Regions from separate parts of the Homo sapiens genome. Here region 1 is linked to region 2. Evidence: fine-mapped expression QTL. A gene starts in region 2. The other region holds a variant in brackets. All regions are shown on one strand. Distances are from middle to middle.

The links. PIP is the estimated chance that this variant, and not a neighbour inherited with it, causes the effect.
Region 1: its variant is fine-mapped to the expression of ADCK1 in lymphoblastoid cells (GEUVADIS, PIP 0.95).

Annotation. Positions count from the first base shown.
Region 1 is chr14:77,895,232-77,906,261 of GRCh38, forward strand. It overlaps ADCK1 (aarF domain containing kinase 1), which reads left to right. Exons shown (of 11, transcript NM_020421.4): 6 at 3,869-4,027. Among named protein-coding and RNA genes, the nearest start is that of ADCK1, 100 kb to the left of the region's middle. The variant G/GAAAA (reference allele first, on the strand shown) is at 4,855.
Region 2 is chr14:77,794,085-77,805,114 of GRCh38, forward strand. ADCK1 (aarF domain containing kinase 1) reads left to right here and starts at 6,025. Exons shown (of 11, transcript NM_020421.4): 1 at 6,025-6,086. RefSeq lists silencers at 2,136-2,185, 2,196-2,245, 5,951-6,310 and enhancers at 5,350-5,888, 5,889-6,427, 6,501-6,550, 6,561-6,640, 8,022-8,861.

The sequences.
Region 1 (11,030 bases), 100 kb after region 2:
ATCAAGTAGAGAATTCTCAGGCATTCTGAAATTACGATTCCCCCAAATTCAGAAGTTATGGCTCTTTCCACTAAAACCTCAGAAATAGAAAAACTCATTTTCTTTGGATAACACATGTGAACATATAATTATCTCAGAGAAGCAGACAAACTCTTTGAAATATTCATTTGTTCATTCATTTACTCATTCATTCATTCATGTGAGTATTCAATAAACATCTGTGGAGTGTTGAGTAGGTGGTAGGCACTGGTGAAAACATTGGCTGTTAGAAGAATTTTATGGAGAAGATGCATTTTGGGAGAAAAATCAAAAAGTCAAATTGATAACAACACCTGTTTTATTTTAGTTGATTGCATGTGTTGTCAAAAAGAAAAATTGAAATGAATCTGCTTAAGGTGGGCTAAGTAGATTCATTTAAGAAGGGAGTTGAATGAAACCAGACGGTGAAACTGAGTTTTATTTTACTTTCTTCAGCCAAGAAAAGTCTAAAATGGCAGCAGCCCGAACTACTTGAACCCGACGACTCTTAACCTGACCCCCTCCCCACCCACTGAATTTCAAGGGGTTGGTGAACCCCTTGAATTATGTGCAAAATTATGTATGTTCATTTTCTGGGCTTCGTAGCGGGTATCAAGTTTTAAAATTGGTGACCTCCTATAAAGGGGATGGTGACATTCCATAAATCTGAGAACCACTGACTTCTATTCAAAGAACCCCCTTCATTTTAAGTAACCAAGGAAGTGACCCACAACCCACAGGATGCCTTAGAAACCAGTTCGATGAGCACTGTAAAGTTTTCTGTGTTATGAATTAGCTTACTAATTAGTTACTAGCAATTAATATTAGTTAATATAATAGACTGCTTATGATTAATGATGTCAGGTATTACCAAGTGTTAATAATAATGAATAGTATTAATAATGACTAATTATGTAATTGATTAGTAACTGGAAAATCTTTAATGTGCCTTTCAGTGCTGCTTGGATATCAATGATAATTAAAAATTCCACAAAAAACAGTGACCATACAATAAATGATGAGGAATTACTGTTTGGCCAGAAGCTTCACCCCCAAGTAGAGACCTCACTGGGCTACAGGTAGCTCTCTGTGCATATCCACGTCTGGCCTATGGTAATTACCTGGAGGGTAATCAGTAAATATTGATTGGACAAATGAGAGAGCCTCATTGTGGCCCCTTTCCTTGCCCCTCTCGGGCGAGACCCTCTGGAGTTGAGATTGGAGCAAAATGCTGGATAGCTTTTCTTGCCTGCATTCCAAGCCCAGAAAAGTGGAATTCAGGTGACTTAGATGGCATGGCTGGCCTCCGCCTGGGCCTGGGGGAATCACTTCTGTTTCCCGTTCACTTGCTCTGCATCTGCTCTGGTTGCTGCCAAGGGCCATCTGAGGGCACTGTGACGAGATTTGATGTCTGGAGGCTGCGGTGCCCAGGTGCCAGGGCTTGAGGCATACAGTCCAGGCCTCTCTGTTGCCCCCTCTCCCTTCTAGTCTTGCTTGATACAAACAAAACATAAACTAAATCAATTATCATAAGGTCACAGGTCTAGCCCATGAAAGACCAGACAAAACTCAAAAGAAATTAAACTACAGCCAAATGTAATTAAAAGAAGTTTTGGTAGAAATTGAGCATGATAACACGGTGCGATGATTCTTTTTGGAATGGCGTCTGGTACATCACCCAGGACATAGGGCTTGAAAACAAAGCTGTAAATGCCTTGTAGTTAATAGTCTGGCTTTAGATTGATTTCTTTTGCCAACACAGCATTGGGCAAAATATCATAGAACAGGGCAAAAAGAAGCATGAGACAAGGCTTTTATCTGGGGCTCAGTAAGTCTTTCTGGAAAGATGGGAAGGGGAAGGTCTTTTGGTACCAACAGGCCCACAGCTTGTTAGTTCTTATTGCCATCTGCTATAGCCAGGGTTAGAGATGGTTGTTCTCAGATAACTCGGACTGTCATTTATACTAAGAATTACTGGGTCAATCAGTCAATGTTCTCCCCAGGCCTGGCTTCGAATGCCAGCAGGAGAGCTTATGGGAGGTCAGGGCCCTTCTGTTTCCCTCCCAGAATTCTGGAACACCTCCTATGTCCCTGGTATCACCCTTGCTCACCCACTACAGAGCCATCATCCAGGAACTTGGGCACCCATCTCAAATCCAGGGCCCTGGTGGTGGGGCAGCCTTAGGATTGTGTCTCTGCTCATGGCAGGGGCTGTGGTATGCTGTGCACAGATCACTGGGCTCTTCTTTAATTTCACATCATTAAACTGACCCCTGAATGCCAGATACATCTTCTAAAACCCCCTCTTAACATGTCATCACTCAAGAATCCACAGTGGAGTCAAATTGCCAAAAATCAAAGCTTTTCATCCAAGTGGTCAAATTCCTTCTCTCTGTCTCCTCTCGTCTTATCCAGCTTTGTTTTCTTATTCCAATTTAGTTTTTTATTATGAAACATTTTAGACGTACAGAAAGTATAGAAAATAGTATTATAAATGTTCAAGCACCAAACATTCAACTTAAGAAATAAAGTAATGACAGTTACATTTGCAGCACCCTCCCAGTGCTTTGTGAACAGACCAGAACAGATCGGGGAGCAGCCACAGCAGCAGTTGAGCTAAGTGTTTCAGAGCAAGGGCTGTAGAGTTGGCTGTGGAATTCCCAGGGGGAATTCTAGCTCGGTACTTCCTTGCTGGGCAGATTTTTTGAAAATCATATAACCCCTCAGAGCCTCAAATTCCTCATCTATAAAATGGGATAGCACTTTGGTAGGCTGAGGCAGGAGGACTGCTTGAGGACAGGAGCTTGAGACCAACCTGGGCAACACAGTGAGACTCTGTCTCTACAAAAAAATTAAAAAAATTAGCTGGGCATGGTGATGCATATCTGTAATCCCAGCCACTCAGGAGGCTGAGGTGGGAGGATCACTTGAGCCTTGGAGGTCAAGGTTGCAGTGAACTGTGATTGATCACGCCACTGCATTCCAGTCTGGGCTACAGAGTGACATCTTGTCTAAACAACAGAAAAGGGATGATAAGATGTGTATCTGTGTGCCTCCCAGAGTTGTTGCAAGGATTAAGTTTAGTAGTAAGTAAAGTGCTTAGTTTACTATTCGCAGTAGCAAAGATGTGGAATCAACCCAAATGCCCATCAATGGGAGACTGGATAAAGAAAATGTGGTAGATATACACCATGGAATACTATGCAACCATAAAAAGGAATGAGATCATGTCCTTTGCAGGGTCATGGATGAAGCTGGGAGCCATTATCCTCAGCAAACTAATGCAGGAACAAAAAAACCCAAAGACCGCTTGTTCTCACTTATAAGTGGGAACTGAACAATGAGAACACATGGACACAGGGAGGGGAACAACACACCTGGGGCCTGTTGGGCGACGGTTGGGGGGTGGGGGAGAGCATTAGGAAAAAGAGCTAATGCATGCCAGGCTTAATACCTAGGTGATGGGTTGATAGGTGCAGTAAACCACCATGACACACGTTTACCTATGAAACAAGCCTGCACATCCTACACACATATCCCAGAACTTAAAAAATAAAATAAAATAAAAAATAAGTGCTTAGTTAGTGCTGGGCACGAGGGGAACCCTCAGCAAGTGGTAGTCATGGTTACCGATGCTGGCTGTTGGGCTATCATCATCTTGGACTTGGTGCAGAGTACCAAGCTTATGGGAGAGCAGGAGCCTACTATGTTTCCCTCCTGGAATTCAGAGGAGGGATGGGCCCCAGGGGAGCAGTTTCCCTTACTCTAGGGGAGAACCAGGCAGGAAGGTAGGGAATGTCCCTTGGTATATGCTGTGGGCCAAATGACTGGGGTGCTTGTTGGATTTCAGGTGCTCGTTCTGGCTGTGAAGCAGCTGTTCCCAGAGTTTGAGTTTATGTGGCTTGTGGATGAAGCCAAGAAGAACCTGCCTTTGGAGCTGGATTTCCTCAATGAAGGGAGGAATGCTGAGAAGGTGTCCCAGATGCTCAGGCATTTTGACTTCTTGAAGGTAGGTGGGACGATGCAATGCAGGGTATGGTGGTCTGGTGGAAGAGTGTAGCGGTATGTGGGTCCCTGCCTTGAGCATCCCTTTCAGGACATAATTGGGACATCTTCTTCCTGAGTCCTCTTACTGAGGATGAATGACATCACTGGTGATGTGCATTAAATCACTTGAAGGCAATTTGCAAAGAAATATCAAGTGTGATTGTTGACCCATTAGTCAATTAAACAGATGTTTATTGAATAATCGACAACTACAAGACACTGAGCCTTAGCCAAGAACCTATATGCCGTGGTCTCTGCCTCTGTGAGGCATGGGATGGTGATGATGATGGCGATGCTGATAGCTAACACTACTGTACGCTGGGACTGTTTTAAACACATGTGTTTTACCTTGGCTCATACAGTTGGTTCTTCTGTAACAAAACATATGTGTCCCTAGAAATACTGCAGTTATGGAAAATCACATAAGAGAAACCACAGAGCTTATGGGGAAAATAGAGTTAGGGGCACAACACTCAAAAAAATTCATCAGTGGCTGGGCACAGTGGCTCACACCTGTAATCCCAGCACTTTGGGAGGCTGAGGCAGGTGGATCACCTGAGGTCAGGAGTTCGAGACCAGCCTGGCCAACATGGTGAAACCTCGTCTCTACTAAAAATATAAAAATTAGCCTGGCGTGGTGGCATGTGCCTGTAATCTCAGCTGTTTGGGAGGCTGAAGCAAGAGAATCACTTGAACCCGGGAGGTGGAGATTGCAGTGAGCTGAGATCACGCCACTGCATTCAGGTCTGGGCAACAAGAGTGAAACTCCGTCTCAAAAAAAAAAAAAAA[G/GAAAA]AAAATTCATCAGTAATACAGTAATATAGGAAAGAAAAGAAGATAGGAATGAATAAAAACCAGTAGCATAGTTTTACACATGTTAAATGGCTAAGAAATACATAAGACCACAATACACATGGCACTTTACCTTGAGCCTGCTGTGGAAGTGGGCATCAGAAGGGTTGCTGCTTGTTAGTTTTGTGGGGTGGTGGGAGGAGTCCTTTGAAATGGGACGGAGGCTGGGCATGGTGGCTGATGGCAGTAATCGCAGTTCTTTGGGAGGCGGAGGTGGGCAGATCACTTGAGGGAAGGAGTTCAAGACCAGCCTGGCCAACATGGTGAAACCCTGTCTCTACTAAAAATACAAAAAGTAGCTGGGCATGGTGGTGCACTCCTGTAATCTCAGCTACTCGGGAGGCTGAGACAGGAGAATCGCTTGGACCCAGGAGGCAGACGTTGTAGTGAGCTGAGATCATGCCATTGCATTGCAGCCTGGGCAACAGAGCGAGACTGCGTCTCAAGGAACAACAACAACAACAAAAAAGAAATGGGACAGAAAGTTGTAAGGCCAGATGTGGGTGACTCACCGACTCGCAGCGATGTCGAGGTGTGTTTGTTTTGTGTATTCCAATGTGGCACGGCTCTGCTGGATGCAGCTTTCTGCATTCACAGTGTTTCTCGCAGATGATAGTACACATAAGCACATCCAAAATTTGCATTATGATCAAACTATTCCCTAACATATCAATTGCATTGGAACAAATTTGTGTTTTCAAAACAAGTATTATAGCAGAACTGTTCTATGTAATAAGAGACACTTAATGTGGGAAACAATATCAGATAATATGAAGTCGCAGCTGTCAGTGCCCCATGAGAAGTACGGCTTCTACATGCTCTGAGGATTCAGAAGTAGGGACTCCCATGGCCTACTGGGTCAGGGCAGGCTCTGCTGAGAAGTTGGCACTAGAGTTGGTGTTCTTTTTTTTTTTTTTTTTGAGACAGAGTCTCGCTCTGTTGCCCAGACTGGAGTGCAGTGGCGCGATCTCAGCTCACTGCAGTCTCCGCCTCCTGGGTTCAAGTAATTCTCCTGTCTCAGTCTCCCAAGTAGCTGGGATCATAGGCATGTGCCACCATGCCTTACTAATATTTGTATTTTTTTTTTTAGTAGAGATGGGGTTTCACCATGTTGTCAGGCTAGTCTTGAACTCCCGACCTCAAATGATTTGCCCACTTTGGCCTCCCAAAGTGCTGAGATTACAGGTGTGAGCCACTGCTCCTGGCCCTGGAGCTGGTCCTTTTTTTTTTTTTTTAATTAATTATTTTATTATTATGATTTTTCTGAGTCAGAGTCTCACTCTGTCACCCAGGCTGGTGCGTAGTGGTGCAATCTCTGCTCACTGCAACCTCCACCTCCCGGGTTCAGGCGATTCTCCTGCCTCAGCCTCCTGAGTAGCTAGGACTACAGGTGTGTGCCACCACACCTGGCTAATTTTTGTATTTTTAGTAGAGACACGGTTTTGCCATTTTGGCCAGGCTGGTCTCAAACTCCTGACCTCAAATGATCCGCCTGCCTCGGCCTCCCAAAGTGCTGGGATTATAGGCGTGAGCCACCGCGGCCGGCCGGAGCTGGTCTTTAAGGACCATCCTGGTGTTCTCTCAGAGCACACAGGAACTGGGGAGAGAGATGTATGCTACACCACTGTTCTTCCAACACATTTGTCCTTCCTGAGGTGTATGCCTATTAAAACAGGGTTACCCCCTTTATCCCAACAGTGCAGGGCTTGGAGGGCTCTTCTGGTTGTCTACACTGAGCTTAGCTTCCAACTCTAGGATGGATCACCCTTCCCTCTTCTTTACCAGGCCTGGAGAATGCACGAGAGGGGTCACCAAGCCCTCAGGAGCTCCATGTGCAGGTTCTAGAGCCAACAGTCAAGCTGTGCTGTTCTTGGGGAGGATGGCTCAGAACATTGGATCAGGGAAAAGGGACTCTCTCATTCTTCCCTAAGGTGTCCTTTTGGCTTTTGAAGACATCATGAGAAATGGAGGAAGTGTCTATATTTTTGCTCTCCTGATTGACTAACAGGGATGGAATGACTGAAGATGTGTCTATTCTAACCACTTGAGAATCCGCAGGAGGAAGAACCGCAGCTGTGTTGATCAGTGCAGTGTATTGACACATTGACTGTGGTGGAAGATAGAACCCATGAAGTTTAGCTCTTTGTGTGTGGTGAGGGTTGGGTACGTCTCCATACTCCCAGTATGCTTGACTGGCATTTTGTTGGCTGCCATTGTCGGTGTGGATGTACAGACCCTCTTGTGTGTGTAAATCCAGGAGTGCAGCCTAGATCTGGTGTCACTGCCCCAGCCTTGGAGCTCAAACCACCAGTTCAGTGAAAACTTGGCTCTTTGAGACAAGTGATAATGTTAACTAATTAGCATAATGCTATAGAGTCTAATACATGCTTCTACTTGCTTATTCCATTTCTTTTATTCCCAAGCTTGTTGCTGTGCTGGGAGCTGAGGTTTGTCCCTGCTCTGGAAAACTTCTCATCTAGTGGAGGGACAGACACAGCAATGTGTTGTTGCAGTGCAGGTTTGTTAGCACCATGACAGGCATTCATCTGTGTTTCTGTGGATTCCCAAGAGGAAGTACGTAATTCTACCCAGGATAAAGGGCTCTGGTGAGTGCTTCTAAGAAGTATTGACTATAGGCAATATATATTGATTATTTCTTCTTCATCAGGAGCTGCTGCATTGAACAGTCTGCAGGTACTATGGTGTTGAGTCCTTCCAGCAGGCATCAGCCCATATTGCAGAGGACAGTTTGAGTAGAGGAGCTAGGGCAACATCCCAGATTTTCTGACTTCAAGTGTGGTGCTCCTCTCAGGATACTCTGCTGCCATTTACCGGCAGGGGTGCCCCTCAGAGCCAGAACTATGAGCCAGACAGAACCATCTCCTCTACTGTTCCCATGGAAACAGCAAAATTGTCCCCTGGCTGGGGCCAACTGGCAAGTGCCAGACCAAGACATGCAATAATAACAATAACACACATTTTTCAAATGAAGATGCCAAATGGGTAAATAATGAATATACCAATTTGACCTGCTGTTTCCAAAACTTGCACACCCTTCCTAAGACAGTGGTGGAATTAAGGCTCTTGAGTAATTAATTTTGCCTAAACACATAACAAGGGGGAAGTGAATTTTGCACTGTGAACCCAGTTCAGCTCTTAAAACTGGAGATAGACTGCTTTTGCACACTGGCTCCCGATCACAACATCTGTGCATAATTAAGCCTCCGCAAAGACTTTACCTCTCAGTGTGTGAGGCATCTTCCGGTGCTTATGTGCGGTTTAAGAACCTCAGCCCTGTGCTATAAATCTCCCAGGCTCAGACAAGCACTGAATGCAAATATGGCGTCAGGGGGACTGGGAGAGGGTGAGGGGGCAGCTAGGCTGAATGATTAAGGCCAGGCTTAGTGGATCTGGCAGCAGAGCGTATGTGCCAGGGGATGGAAACAGGACAAGTGGTAGGGTTTGTGACTCACCTGGGGACAAGGTGGCAGGGGAGAAGCTTTATAACCACAGGGTTTGGGACTGGAAGTGATGAGACCATTTCTGTATGTGTGGAGGTGGGGATAGGTGTGCAGGGCCATGCCAGGGTTCCTTAGTGTGAGGTAAGGAGCCCAGGACTCTAGAAATTGTGGACAAACCCTGAGGAGATGTGCATGCTTTTTGGGAAGTATGATAACTTCCCATGAATCTCAAAGATTAGGAACTACAGATGGATAGTAATTAATATATAACTTCTTTTTTGCAGAGTGATTTATATTCTTTAATTCTTTAATTCTTACAACAGCCTCACAAGGGAGGTGCCATAATCACCCCCATATCATCAGTTGGGAGACTGAGGCTCAGAGCTATCAACCCTTTGGGCAGGGTCACAAGGCTTACCACTAAGGGGAGGGAATAGAGGTAGCCTGCTCCAGAGCCTGCATGTTCACCCTCCATATGGTTTTGCTCTGTGGGGAAGTTGTGAATTCCAGTGAACCGTCTAGAGCATAACTCTCAGCCCTGGTGTGTATCAGAGCCCTCTGTGAAACTCGATGTGGCTGTCCTAAGAGCAATCGATGTTTTTTCCAGCAGCTGCTAGTGTCTGGTTCCATGTTGAGTGCCAGTACTCTGCTCATAGTAGTGGGAAATGGGGGCGGAGGTGGGGTTGTGCTTCCACTGTAACCATTATCACCATATTTTTGGTGGAGAAACTGGTGTTCAGAGAGGTTATATAACTTACCCACAGTCACACAGCTTTTAGGTGGCAGAGCCGGGGCTCCAGCCAGCAGCCTGACTCCAAATCTGCCGGTCTGACTGCATGTCTCCAGGCCTTCTGCTGTGCTGGACTCAGGCTCCAGGAGGACTGTGGGCCTAGGGTGATGGGCACTGTCTCAGACAAGCCAGGCGCAGCCTGTTTCGTGGGCATGTTGACCAAAGCATAGAAACAAAGCAGAAATGTGAGGTCAGGGCCAGACTGTGAGGCTGAGGCCCAGGGTCTTGGGCTAAAACTTCTCTAATTGGTGCCCTCCTTCTTGGGGTCCAGATTGGCATCCGTGTGGGAGGCAGGAGGAGCCCACAGGAGGGAGGCCTCTGCTCTGTGGCAAAGAGGTAGAACCTGGACCCAGGGGTCCTAATGGTCAGGGTGTGACCCTGCTGGTGGGGCCGCTGAGCACCCTGGCCATGAGCTCCTTAGAGTTTCAGCTTGCTTTGTTTGGGGGTGGGATGGGGGAGTGCGGGGTGCTTATTGACTCTTTCAAATTTCTCTTTTTCATTTTTTCCTTCTTTGATGGAAGAAGCATAGGACAGGAAATGTGGGCGCTCACTTCACCCCACACCCCCAGGTCCTCCTGCCCATCTGGTGATTTAGGCGCAGCTCACTTTTTTAACTGAGCAGGAGCAGTTTGGCATTTTGCAGTCATTTCCATGTTATGTCTGTCCAGGGGCACCTGTGGTTCTGAAGCTCCCATGACAAATTCCACTGTTTCCCAGGTTTGATATTTTAGTCATTTCAGATTTAAGCAGCAGAAGCAAGGGGCACATTCTGTGGTTAGACTGGAATGGTGATGTTTGCAGGGAGACCAAAAAGGGGGAAACCGCAGTACACCCAGGACCCTGATGCACAAGCACAGAGAAGCTCCAGCCTGTGGGATTTCTGTTTCCACCTGTGACTCTTTCCTAGCTGGTTTTTTTTTTTTTTTTTTTTGAGATGGAATCTCACTCCCTCTGTCACCGTGGCTGGAGTACAGTGGCGTATTCTTCACCCACTGCAACCTCCGTCTCCCAGGTTCTAGCGATTCTCTTTCCTCAGCCTCAGTGATCTGCCCTCCTTGGCCTCTCAAAGTGCTGGGATTACAGGCGTGAGCCACTGCGCCCAGCCCCTCGCTGTTTTTTAAGCTGCCTCTGGTGGGGCTGGCTAGAGATTTGACCTCTTGTCTCCAGAGCCTTAGGGGCCCACTGTCAAAGGTAGGTTTACAAACAAACCCAAGGGAAGAATTTAACCCGAAAATATGTCCCATTCATTTGGAAGCCATGAACAAAAACAACAGGCAGGGCACGGTGGCTCACGCCTGTAATCCCAGCACTTTGAGAGGCTGAGGCAGGAGGATCTCTTGAGTCCAGGAGTTCGAGGCTGCAGTGCGCTATGATGATGCCACAGCATTCCAGCCTGGGTGACAGAATGAGACCCTGTCTCTAAAGAAACCGACAAAGCAACAATAGCAAACATGCACTCACTTTTTTAAAAAGAAACTTTTTGAAAAATGCCAAGCAAGTCTAAATTTTAAGTTCAAAGTATCAGTTTCACAGATTTCTCTATTGGCCCAGATTTTCAAATGGCAGAAACCGCAGTCAAGCAGCAAACCAAAATAACACCTTGCTTTCTGGTGGAAACTTTGTTCCAACTAGAGCATTTCACTTGTATGTACAGCCCCCATTTATCCTCAGAGGTCCTTACTGAGATAGGGCAGAAACAATTCTGCTTTCCAGTGAGGAAGACTGGGATGTAAAGAAGTTAAGTGGCTAGTCTAAGACACAACAGTATTAGCAGAATTAGGAACAGGAAATAGGTCTGTTGACTTGAGGGCCACTATGTTATTGCTAGATGAATTTGGGTGGTCAGGGTAAAGGAAAATCTTACTCTC
Region 2 (11,030 bases):
GCCGAGATGGTGCCGTTGCACTCCAGCCTGGGTGACAGAATGAGACTCGGTCTCAAAAACAACAATAACAACAACAACAACAACAACAAAGCAAGTTTGAGTCTTCACATTAAGCCTGTACCACTGTTGTAACATGGGAAGACATGAAGAAGAAATGATCTGAGCTTTAATCATTTATATTCGGACATAAGGTCCACCAAGATAAAGAACATCTGTACCAAACTGCCCCCTCCCCACAAAATTCAAGTATTGATAAGTGATTTTAAATAAATTTTATAAATAAAACAGTGTAAGGAGGTAGAGTGTGTCTCAGGGAATGTGGGGGTGAGTGGGGAGATAGGGGTAATTGGGGATGACCTCTCTGGAGAGTAACATTAGCAGAGAACAAATTGCCAGGATGGAGCAGACCATTGAAGATATGGGGGAATAGCAAGTGTAACGGCTGCCCAGATAGCAGCCAGCTTGGCAGATTGAGAACAGAAAGGAAGCTGATGCGGTTGGAGTGGAGTGAGCCAGGGAAGAGAAGGGTGGGAAATGAGGCTGGAGAGAGGGAGTGGAGCCAGCCTCTGGGGAGCCAGGAGGGTCAGGCTGAAGGGGTGGGTTGCCCCTCCACACCTGTGGGTGTTTCTCGTAAGGTGGAACGAGAGACTTGGAAAAGAAAAAGACACAGAGACAAAGTATAGAGAAAGAAATAAGGGGACCCTGGGGACCAGCGTTCAGCATATGGAGGATCCCGCCAGCCTCTGAGTTTTCTTAGTATTTATTGATCATTCGTGGGTGTTTCTCCGAGAGGGGGATGTGTCAGGGTCACAAGACAATAGTGGGGAGAGGGTCAGCAGACAAACACGTGAACAAAGGTCTTTGCATCATAGACAAGGTAAAGGATTAAGTGCTGTGCTTTTAGATATGCATACACATAAACATCTCAATGCTTTACAAAGCAGTATTGCTGCCCGCATGTCCCACCTCCAGCCCTAAGGCGCTTTTCCCCTATCTCAGTAGATGGAACGTACAATCGGGTTTTATACCGAGACATTCCATTGCCCAGGGACGGGCAGGAGACAGATGCCTTCCTCTTGTCTCAACTGCAAGAGGCATGCCTTCCTCTTATACTAATCCTCCTCAGCACAGACCCTTTACAGGAGTTGGGCTGGGGGACGGTCAGGTCTTTCCCTTCCCACGAGGCCATATTTCAGACTATCACATGGGGAGAAAACTTGGACAATACCTGGCTTTCCTAGGCAGAGGTCCCTGCGGCCTTCCGCAGTTTTTGTGTCCCTGGGTACTTGAGATTAGGGAGTGGTGATGACTCTTAAGGAGCATGCTGCCTTCAAGCATCTGTTTAACAAAGCACATCTTGCACCGCCCTTAATCCATTTAACCCTGAGTTTGACACAGCACATGTTTCAGAGAGCACGGGGTTAGGGGTAAGGTCACAGAATCTCAAGGCAGAAGAATTTTTCTTAGTACATAACAAAATGGAGTCTCCCATGTCTATTTCTTTCTACACAGACACAGTAACAATCTGATCTCTCTTGCTTTTCCCCACATCAGGCAAAGAGTTTGGATTTTCTTCTCAGTGTCATGACACTCCTCTGAACAGCAACATTCAGCTTCCAAAGCACTTGCACCATTGCACTTGATCCTCACAAGCCCTTTGAGGTAGATAGGACTGACAATAGTATTAACTCCATTTTATCAAGACAGAAACTAAAGCTCTGCCAAAATTAGAAAACCTGCTGTGAGTCACCCAGTTCAAATAAGATTCTTTGACTCTAAATCGGGGTTTTTAACCTCAGCTGTGCATTGAAATCCTACAGGGAGCTCTACAAAATACCTATGACTCAGTCCCATTCCCAGTAGTTGAAGGGGTGCTAGTGCCAGCTATGGCCCAGGAAGACTTTTAAAGCTCTCCAGGTGATTTTTTTTTTTAGACTGGGTTTTTCTCTGTCACCCAGGCTGGAATGCGGTGGTGGTGCAATCATGCCTCACTGTACCCTTGACCTTCTGGGCTCAAGTTATCTTCCCACGTGAGCCTCCTGAGTAGTTGGGATTTTAGGCATGAGCCACTGTGCCTGGCCCTTATTATTATTTTATTTTTAATTTATTATTATTTTTTGAGATGGAGTCTTGCTCTGTCACCCAGGCTGGAGTGCAGTGACATGATCTCGGCTCACTGCAACCTCTGCCTCCTAGGTTCAAGCGAGTATCCTGCCTTAGCCTCTAGAGCAGCTGGGACTACAGGCGTGTGACACCACGCCCAGCTAAGTTTTGTATTTTTAGTAGAGACGGGGTTTCACCATGTTGGCCAGGCTGGGCTGGAATTCCTGACCTCAAGTGATCTGCCTGCCTTGGCCTCCCTAAGTGCTGGGATTACAGGTGTGAGCCACTGCACCTGGCCTAATGCTCCCTTTTTTCTGTTCCTAAGCCACTTTGTTCATACCTCAATCTTAACACTTCTCACATTATTTGGAAGTTATCAATCTTCTTATCTTAATGCCTATACATTGCAAACTTTAGATGGTGGGGGCTGTGTTATTTAACTCTATACTACTGCTACCTCTGTGCTGCAATTATCTTTTTTTTTCTTTTTTAGTGACCGGGTTTAGCTCTCTCTCTGTTGCCCAGCTGGAGTGCAGTGGCAAGACTCATCAAAGCTCACTGCAGCCTTGAACTCCTGGGCTCAAGATCCTCCCTCCCTGGCCTCCAGAGTAGCTGGGACTACAGGCATGCGCCACCATGCCCAGCTAATTTTTAATTTTTCTGTAATCTCATAGGGTCTGGCTATGTTGCTCAGGCTGGTCTCTAACTCCCAGCTTCAAGCGATTCTCCTGCCTTGGCCTCCCAAACTGTCGTGGTTACAGGGATAAGCCACTGTGCTCAGTCTATGCTGTCTTTCAATAAAGACAAGTGCTTAAATTTAATGTAGTTTAAATTTATCAAAGTTTTATTTACAGTTTGTGATTATGGCACTTAATAAACCCTACCCTGAGATCATAAGGATGTTTTCTTTTCTTGTAAAAGTTATAATTTTGGGGAACGATAGTAAGAAGAAAAAAAAAGTTGTAATTTTAAAATGCTTTAATTTCCCCTGTAAGTCTTTAACCTACCTTGAATTAGTTTTTGCATAGGGGATCCAACAGGTAACTGGTTGTTCCAGCCCATGTACTGAATACTCTATCTTCCCTCACTGAACTATAATTCCAGCCATACCTCATTTCATAGATGCCTGCATGTTTGGGCTCTGTAGGTGGTTCCATTTCCCCCTCTGCCTTTCCCTATTCCAATATCACATGGTCTTAATTTGTATAGCTTTATAATACATGTTGACATGGAAGGGTGCGTCCTTGAAACACATTTTTCTTCTTCAAGAATGTTTTGGCTATGCTTTGCCTTAAAGTGGTGGTTTTTTTTTGTTTTTTGTATTTTTTTTTTTTTTTGAGACAAAGTCTCGCTCTGTCACCCAGGCTGGAATTCAGTGGTATGATCTTGGCTCACTGCAACATTTGTCTCCCGGGTTCAAGGATTCTCTTGCCACAGCCTTCTGAGTAGCTGGGATTACAGGTGTGCACCACCATGCCTGGCTAATTTTTGTATTTTAGTAGAGATGGGGTTTTACCATGTTGGCCAGGCTGGTGATGAACTCCTGACCTCAACTGATCCACCTGCCTTAGCCTCCCAACGTGCTGGGATTACAGGCACGAGCCACTGCGCTGCCCTTTGTTTTTTCATACACACTTTTGATTAGTTTGTGAAGGTCCAGAAAAAATTATGTTGGAAATTTGATTGGAACTGCATTGGACTGATAGATTAATTCCCCCATGAAAAAAATAGCTCAAGAGATGTTTATAGAATAAACAAACGTCTGAGGCCTGGCGTGGTGGCTCACACCTGTAATCCCAGCACTTTGGGAGGCCAAGGCCAGAGGATGGCTTAGCACAGAAATTCGAGACCAGCCTGGGCAATATAGTGAGACCACACCCCCCAGCTTTTCTTGAGAAAAAATTTAAAAAATTTAGCCAGGCGTGGCAGTATGTGCTTGTAGTCCCAGCTACTCCACAGACTGAGGCAGGAGGGTACCTTGAGGACAGGAAGTTGAGGCTACAGTGATGGAGCCTCTACACTCCAGCTTGGGCAACACAGCCAGACCCTGTCTCAAAAAAAAAAAGAGAAATGTTTTTGATACATGTCTTCAAAGTGCATCTTATAAGTCAACATTTGATAATGGAGATCAGTGAATGAATGAATAAGGGCCAAAGATAACTAAGATTAGCTAGCATATTATATTTATTTATTTATTTATTTTGAGACGAGTCTTGCTCTGTTGCCCAGGCTGGAGTGCAGTGGCCCAATCTCAGCTCACTGCAACCTCCACCTCCTGGGTTCAAGCAATTCTCCCACCTCAGCCTCCCGAGTAGTTGGGATAACAGGTGCCCGCCACTATGCTGGGCTAATTTTTCTTTTTCTTTTTTTTCTTTTTGGAGACAGAGTCTCACTCTGTTGCCTAGGCTGGAGTGCAGTGGCGTGATCTCAGCTCACTGCAACCTCCGCCTCCCGGGTTCAAGCGATTCTCCTGCCTCAGCTTCCTGAGTAGCTGAAATTCCAGACGTGCACCACCACACCAGGCTAATTTTTGTATTTTTAGCAGAGACAGATTTCACTATGTTGGCCAGGCTGGTCTCAAATTCCCGGCCTCAAGTGGTCCGCCCACCTTGGCCTCCCAAGGTGCTGGGATTACAGGAATGAGCCACCGCACCCGGCTTAATTTTTCTATTTTTAGTAGAAATGGGGTTTCACTATGTCGGCCTGGCTGGTCTCCAACCCCTAGCCTCAGGTGATCTGCCCGCCTCAGCCTCCCAAAGTGCTGGGATTACAGGTGTGAGCTACTGCGTCCTGCCCAGCCAGCATTATTATTATTATTTTTGAGACGGAGTTTCGCTGTTGTTGCCTAGGCTGGAGTGCAATGGCGTGACCTCGGCTCACCGCAACTTCTGCCTCCCGGGTTTCTAGTGCCTCAGCCTCCTGAGTAGCTGGGATTACAGGCATGCACCACTAGGCCTGGCTAATTTTTGCTATTATTAGTAGGGACGGGGTTTCTCCATGTTGGTCAGGTTGGTCTCAAACTCCCGACCTCAGGTGATCTGCTAGCCTTGGCCTGCTGGGATTACAGGCGTGAGCCACCGCCCCGCCAGCATACATCAATTGTCAGTAAATTTCTTCTTCGCCTACTAGTTCCAATATCTTATTTAAAATCTATGGCCCGGTGAGGTGGCTCAGGCTTGTAATCCCAGCACTTTGGGAAGTCAAGGCGGGTGGATTGCCTGAGTTCAGGAGTTCAAGACCAGCCTGGGCAAAATGGCGAAACCCCGTCACTCCTAAAAATACAAAAAATTAGCAGGGCGTGGTAGCACACTCCTGTAATCCCAGCTACTCAGGAGGCTGAGGCAGGAGAATCACTTGAACCCGGGAGGCGGAGGTTGCAGTGAGGCGAGATGGGCCACTGCACTCCAGCTTGGGCGACAGAGTGAGACTCTGTCTCAAAATGAATGAATGAATGAATGAATGAATGAATAAAATCTACGAGGTCGGGCGCAGTGGCTCACTCTTGTAATCCCAGCACTTTGGGCGGGCGGATCATTTGAGGTCAGGAGTTTGAGACCGGCTTGGCCAACATGGTGAAACCCCATCTCTAAAAAAAATACAAAAATTAGCTGTACTGCTTGGGCGACAGAGCGAGACTCAGTCTCAAAAAAAAAAAATCTACAAATCCACTTCATCTTTCATTAAACACGAACCTGGGACGTAGTTAGAATGTCTTGAAGAAAATATTTCAGTAATATTCCAAGTCCGTCGCCCTGGCAAAGCAACAAGGCCACCTGACGGAGTAAGCCCGAGACCCCTGTGCCTCCACAGTACTGCCCGCGGGATCGCGGCGTGGGGAACCAGGAACTACAAGTCCCGGCAGGCCGCGCGCGCCTCGGCTTCACTAAGCGCAGTCAGGTGGCTGTCCCCGCACGGTTCCCAGCTAATTCCCCGCTACCGGGTTGCGGCCGGAAGCCGGGCGCCGCGGCTCTGCTTCCCTCGGGGTGAGTAGGGGCAGCTCGCCGGAGGCCGGCGCAGAGCTCGGGCCGACCAGCCTGGCAGGGCCGCACCGCGCCTGGAGCGCGAGGGAACCGGCATGGACACGCCGGGAGTCGGCCTCTGCTCCGGTTGTGCAGCCGCCCTGGGCGCCGGGAGGGACAGCCCCATGACCTTGTCACCTGGGCCCGGCGCGCGGCCACGTGGCTCGGGTGACTCGCATTGCCCCGCCCCCCTGCAGTGACTTCTCCAGTTTGGCACACCAGTGGGCTTTCATGTGACCTGTCCACTTCAGTGGCACAGTCTTGCAGGCACCCGAGTGGGCAGAGCTGGAGGAGGGCCGGAGGTGGCTCACCCAGACGCCTTCACCCCCTGGTGGCCCTGTGAGTTCCGAGGCAGAAGCAGCTGGAGCTGGAGCGTGGTCTGGGCAAGAGCAGGGGGCGATGCCCATATCCTGGCCCTCCACCCGGTCTTGCGAACGTGCCCCAGACCGCTGCTTATCTCCAGCATCTTGCAGGGCCCTGGGCTTCCAGATCACACAGTAGATATGTGCTAACAGCAGCCAGTGTGTGTGGAGAGCAACCTTTAGATAAGACACCTAGAACAGCCCTCTCCCAGGGTTAAGTGGCATTTACTTTCTACTAACAAGAAAGTCATTCAACAAGTATTTATTGTTTACCTCCATGATACTTGGCACTTAGTAGGTGCTCAAGAAATATTTGCAGAGTTGAAGTGAATTAGACTTTATCTGTGGCTTCATATGTTTTATTTAATAATTTTCTTGGGGCTGGATGTGGTGGCTGATGCCTGTAATCCCAGCACTTTGGGAGGCCAAGATGGGAGGATTGCTTGAGGGCAGGAGTTCAACACCAGGCTGGGCAACATAGTGAGACTCCCGTCTGTATTAAAAGAAAAAAAGGAAAATAAATAAAATAATTTTCTTACTACAGTGGTTCTCAAACTTTAGCATGCACCAGAGTCACCTGGAGAGCTAGTAACAACACACAGTACTGGACCCCATCCCCAAAGTTTCTGATTCTGTAAGTCTGGTATGAGGACCAAGAATTGGCGTTTCTAACATGCACCCAAGTGATGCAGTTGCTGTTGGTCTGGGGACCATACGTTGAGTACCACTGCTTTATAGGAAAAAAAATCCTGTGAACTTAAAGCACTATCTCTTCACACCTGGTTACGGGTCTTTCTGTCTTTATTTGCCAGTTTTACTTTTTTGGTGATTGTAAATATGTGCATATTACTTTGTACACTGTTAACTCCCTCCATATTAATTTATATACAGATTTTAATGTAGTCTATACTTGTCATTTTTCCTGGTTACATCATATTCTACCTTATTGGGTCATTCTTTGCTTGGCCATTTCTCAACTGGCCTCAGGGATGTGCGATTTGATCTGTACTAGAAGAGTGTGCATATTCTTACTTTCTGCTATGCAGTCATTTTCTTGTCAGACAAAGGACCTGTAAGAATATTAGTTGGGGCCGGGTGCGGTGGCTCACACCTGTAATCCCAGCACTTTGGGAGGCTGAGGTGGGCGAATCACTTGAGGTCAGGCGTTCAATGCCAGCCTGGCCAACATGGTGAAACCCCATCTCTACCAAAAATACAAAAAAATTACCTGGGCGTAGTGGTGTGTGCCTGTAGTCCCAGCTACTTGGGAGGCTGAGGAGGAGAACAGCTTGAACCCGGGAGACGGAGGCTGCAGTGAGCCGAGATCGTGTCACTGCACTCCAGCCTGGGCGACTGAGCAAGACTCCGTCTAAAAAAAAAAAATTTAGTTGGGTCAGCCATCCATTTCTTCACCAGGGTAACTCACTAAATATGCCTCCTGGGTTAAGGTTTCCATGTTGCAGGGACTCCAGTGGCCTATTTCAGGGCCCAGCAAGCTGCTTGTTCTTGTGCACTTTTTGCTCTCTTGGTGGGAGCAGTCATACATGGATTCAAGTTCTGCCTCCATCACTTACCAGCTCCTTGGCCAAGTTTTCTACCTTTTCTAAAACACCACTTCCTTATCCATAGATTGAAGCTCTAATAGCATGCACCTCGGAATCTGGTTGTGTGAGTTAATGAGCTAATAAGTGCTTGGTACTGTAGCTCTCCCGTTGGAAGCTCACTCTCTTCTCTTACCTGCTGCTTGCTCTTTGCATCTGGCTTTGCCCTATTCTCCCTCAGTCTGCCTTTCCTAGGATGGACTGAATGGAGGATTTCTATTCCTTGCCTGGGTGAGAATTATTTTTGTTGTCTATTCTGGGACCTTGGCATCAGTCAGGGATTCCTTTTTTTATTTTTTGAGACAGAGTGTTGCTCTGTCGCCCAGGCTGGAGTGCAGTGGCACGATCTTGGCTCACTGCAGCCTCTGCCTCTCGGGTTCCAGCAATTCTCTTGCTTCAGCCTCCCGGGATTCCTTTATTTAATCAACATTGATTTAAGGACCTTGAGTGCTTAGGCATCAAACACTAGGAAAGGGAGTTTGATTAAAATTTGGTTCCTAGCCGGGCGCGGTGGCTCACGCCTGTAATCCCAGCACTTTGGGAAGCCAAGGCGGGCGGATCACGAGGTCAGGAGATCGAGACCATCCTGGCTAACATGGTGAAACACCGTCTCTACTAAAAAAAATACAAAAAAATTAGCTGGGCGTGGTGCCGGGTGCCTGTAGTCCCAGCTACTCAGGAGGCTGAGGCAGGAGAATGGCTGGAACCCGGGAGGCGGAGCTTGCAGTGAGCCGAGATTGCGCCACTGCACTCCAGCCTGGGCGACAGAATGAGACTTCATCTCAAAATAAATAAATAAATACAATTTGGTTCCTGGACTACATTACTATCTTAGGGAGGGCAGACTGTAAACCTGCTCAGGCCAACTTCACACAGTCCCTTGCTATTGACTTGGTGTCTTTGGCATCTTTCCAGACTTGAGGCATGATGGTATCATTCACTTTGTGTGCTTTCTATCCATATCAGGGACCAGGTTCTTCTGAAGACCCTATCACTCTCTCCAAGGGTATTTTTGGGTCTTTTTTCAGTTTTGGGGGCAGACTAGAAGAAATAATGCTCATTGGTATAATAGTCTCTCTAGGAAATGGGAGGAGGCCATGGTCACTTTTCATGGAACTAGAGACCTAAGTGCCTTTTCTCTGTGGTAATTCTCATTTGTGCACCAAACAGGGAAAGGTGATTCCAGGCCTTTAGTCCTGAAATGTAGCATAGGGAGAGGGCTGCCAATGGATGGAAACTGAAAAGGCCTAGCTAGTCACTGACTCCGATGAACAGTAAGTGCTTGGTTTCCCATTTAGTTCTGTCAAGGGGACGGACATTTCGTGTGACCATCAGCTTCCCATTTGTACGTCCCAGACTCTCCTGTTGCTTCATTTTCATAACCTACTGGGGTGTTTCCTGTGGTCCAGCGAGATGGATTCCATTCTTGTCATTGATTTGACAATAAAACAGCCATGTCAGCTTTGCAGCTCTCCTAAACATTTGATAGACTGAAATGGCTTGTTTCTAGTGGGAGGCATTGGTTGATCTTGTGACATCCTGTTGATTTTGGGGGCTCCAAACAGTGCCTCCCACATGCCTGGCACTGGGTCAGAAATCATAGTCTCTGCCCACAGCAACAGTTGCATTTACTTGAGAACAGCAGTAAGGACTTTAGTGAACAGGAGTCCAGGTGTTCCTATCAAAGACGTTACCTGTCATAAAGAGAAGGGCTGAATACTTGGAATGAGTGGGAAGGCCCTGCTCAAGCTCTTAGCCATTTTACTAGCTGAGCCACCTGGGACAAATCTCTCACCCTCTCTGCTCCTTGGTTTCCTCATTTATACCTGGGGATGGTAATAATATTTGTCTCTCCTCACTGGGTTGTGTGGAATATCTAATGAGTTGAGTGTAAAGGGCTCTATTTTAATATAAAGGCTAGTTCTTGCTAGTGTTATTATCTAGTGATTAGGTTTAAGGGTTTTGGTGGCCTCAGACCCCCTGTAAGGTATGTACTGTTAGGAGAGGTGACTCAGGTGAAAGTCAAAAAGGCTAGTAAGCAGAACAGGGCAGGTGATTCATTAACAAAGGGTTTAATAAGGAAAAATGTTTTCAATTGACAGACATATTTCACGCCTGACAGGGTCTTTTACAATACCCCGAGGGAAGCAACTCATTTGCATGTTAAAGACTCAGGGACACCTTATGGAAAACTCTAGCTCCAGTCTATTTAGATGCCATTCGGCTCCTGTATCATCTATTTTATGTATTTCAATTTCCATCTCTTTTATCACTGAGGACATTTGCACGAAAACAGGGTTTCGAGAGTTGTGTCTGCTTCGCTGTTACTTCCCACCCAGAGGTGGTCTCAAGGGTAGGGGTGGCCTCATTGCATACAGGGGACAGGTGTGGAGGTTGGTGTAACAGGAAGAGGGGGTTCAGGGGAGGCAGGGGCTGGGAGGTGGTGTTGGGGTGGGATGGGGTGTTGGTGATGAATTGTCAGCCCAGGGCATGTGGTTTTCACCTGGGGACCTGCATTGTTCCTTGCTCTGCACAGGTCTCAGGCCTCACTGGCTGTAGTTTGTCCATTCATTGATTCATTCGTTCAGTAAATGCTTTTGGAGCGCCCCCTATGTGCTAGGCCAGGGTTTGGCAAATGACAGCCTGAGGTTCAATTCTGGCCACACCTATTACTTTATACATCCTCTGTGTTTGCCTTGTGCCACAATGCAGAGTTGAGTAGATGCGTCAGAGATGTTATAGAATGCAAAGCCAAGGCTGGGCACGGTGGCTCACGCTTGTCATCCCAGCACTTTGGGAGGCTGGGGTAGGCGGATCACCTGAGGTTGGGAGTTTGAGACCAGCCTGACCAACATGGAGAAACCCTGTCTCTACTAAAAATACAAAATTAGCCGGACGTGGTGGCGCATGCCTGCAATCCCAGCTACTTGGGAGGCTGAGGCAGG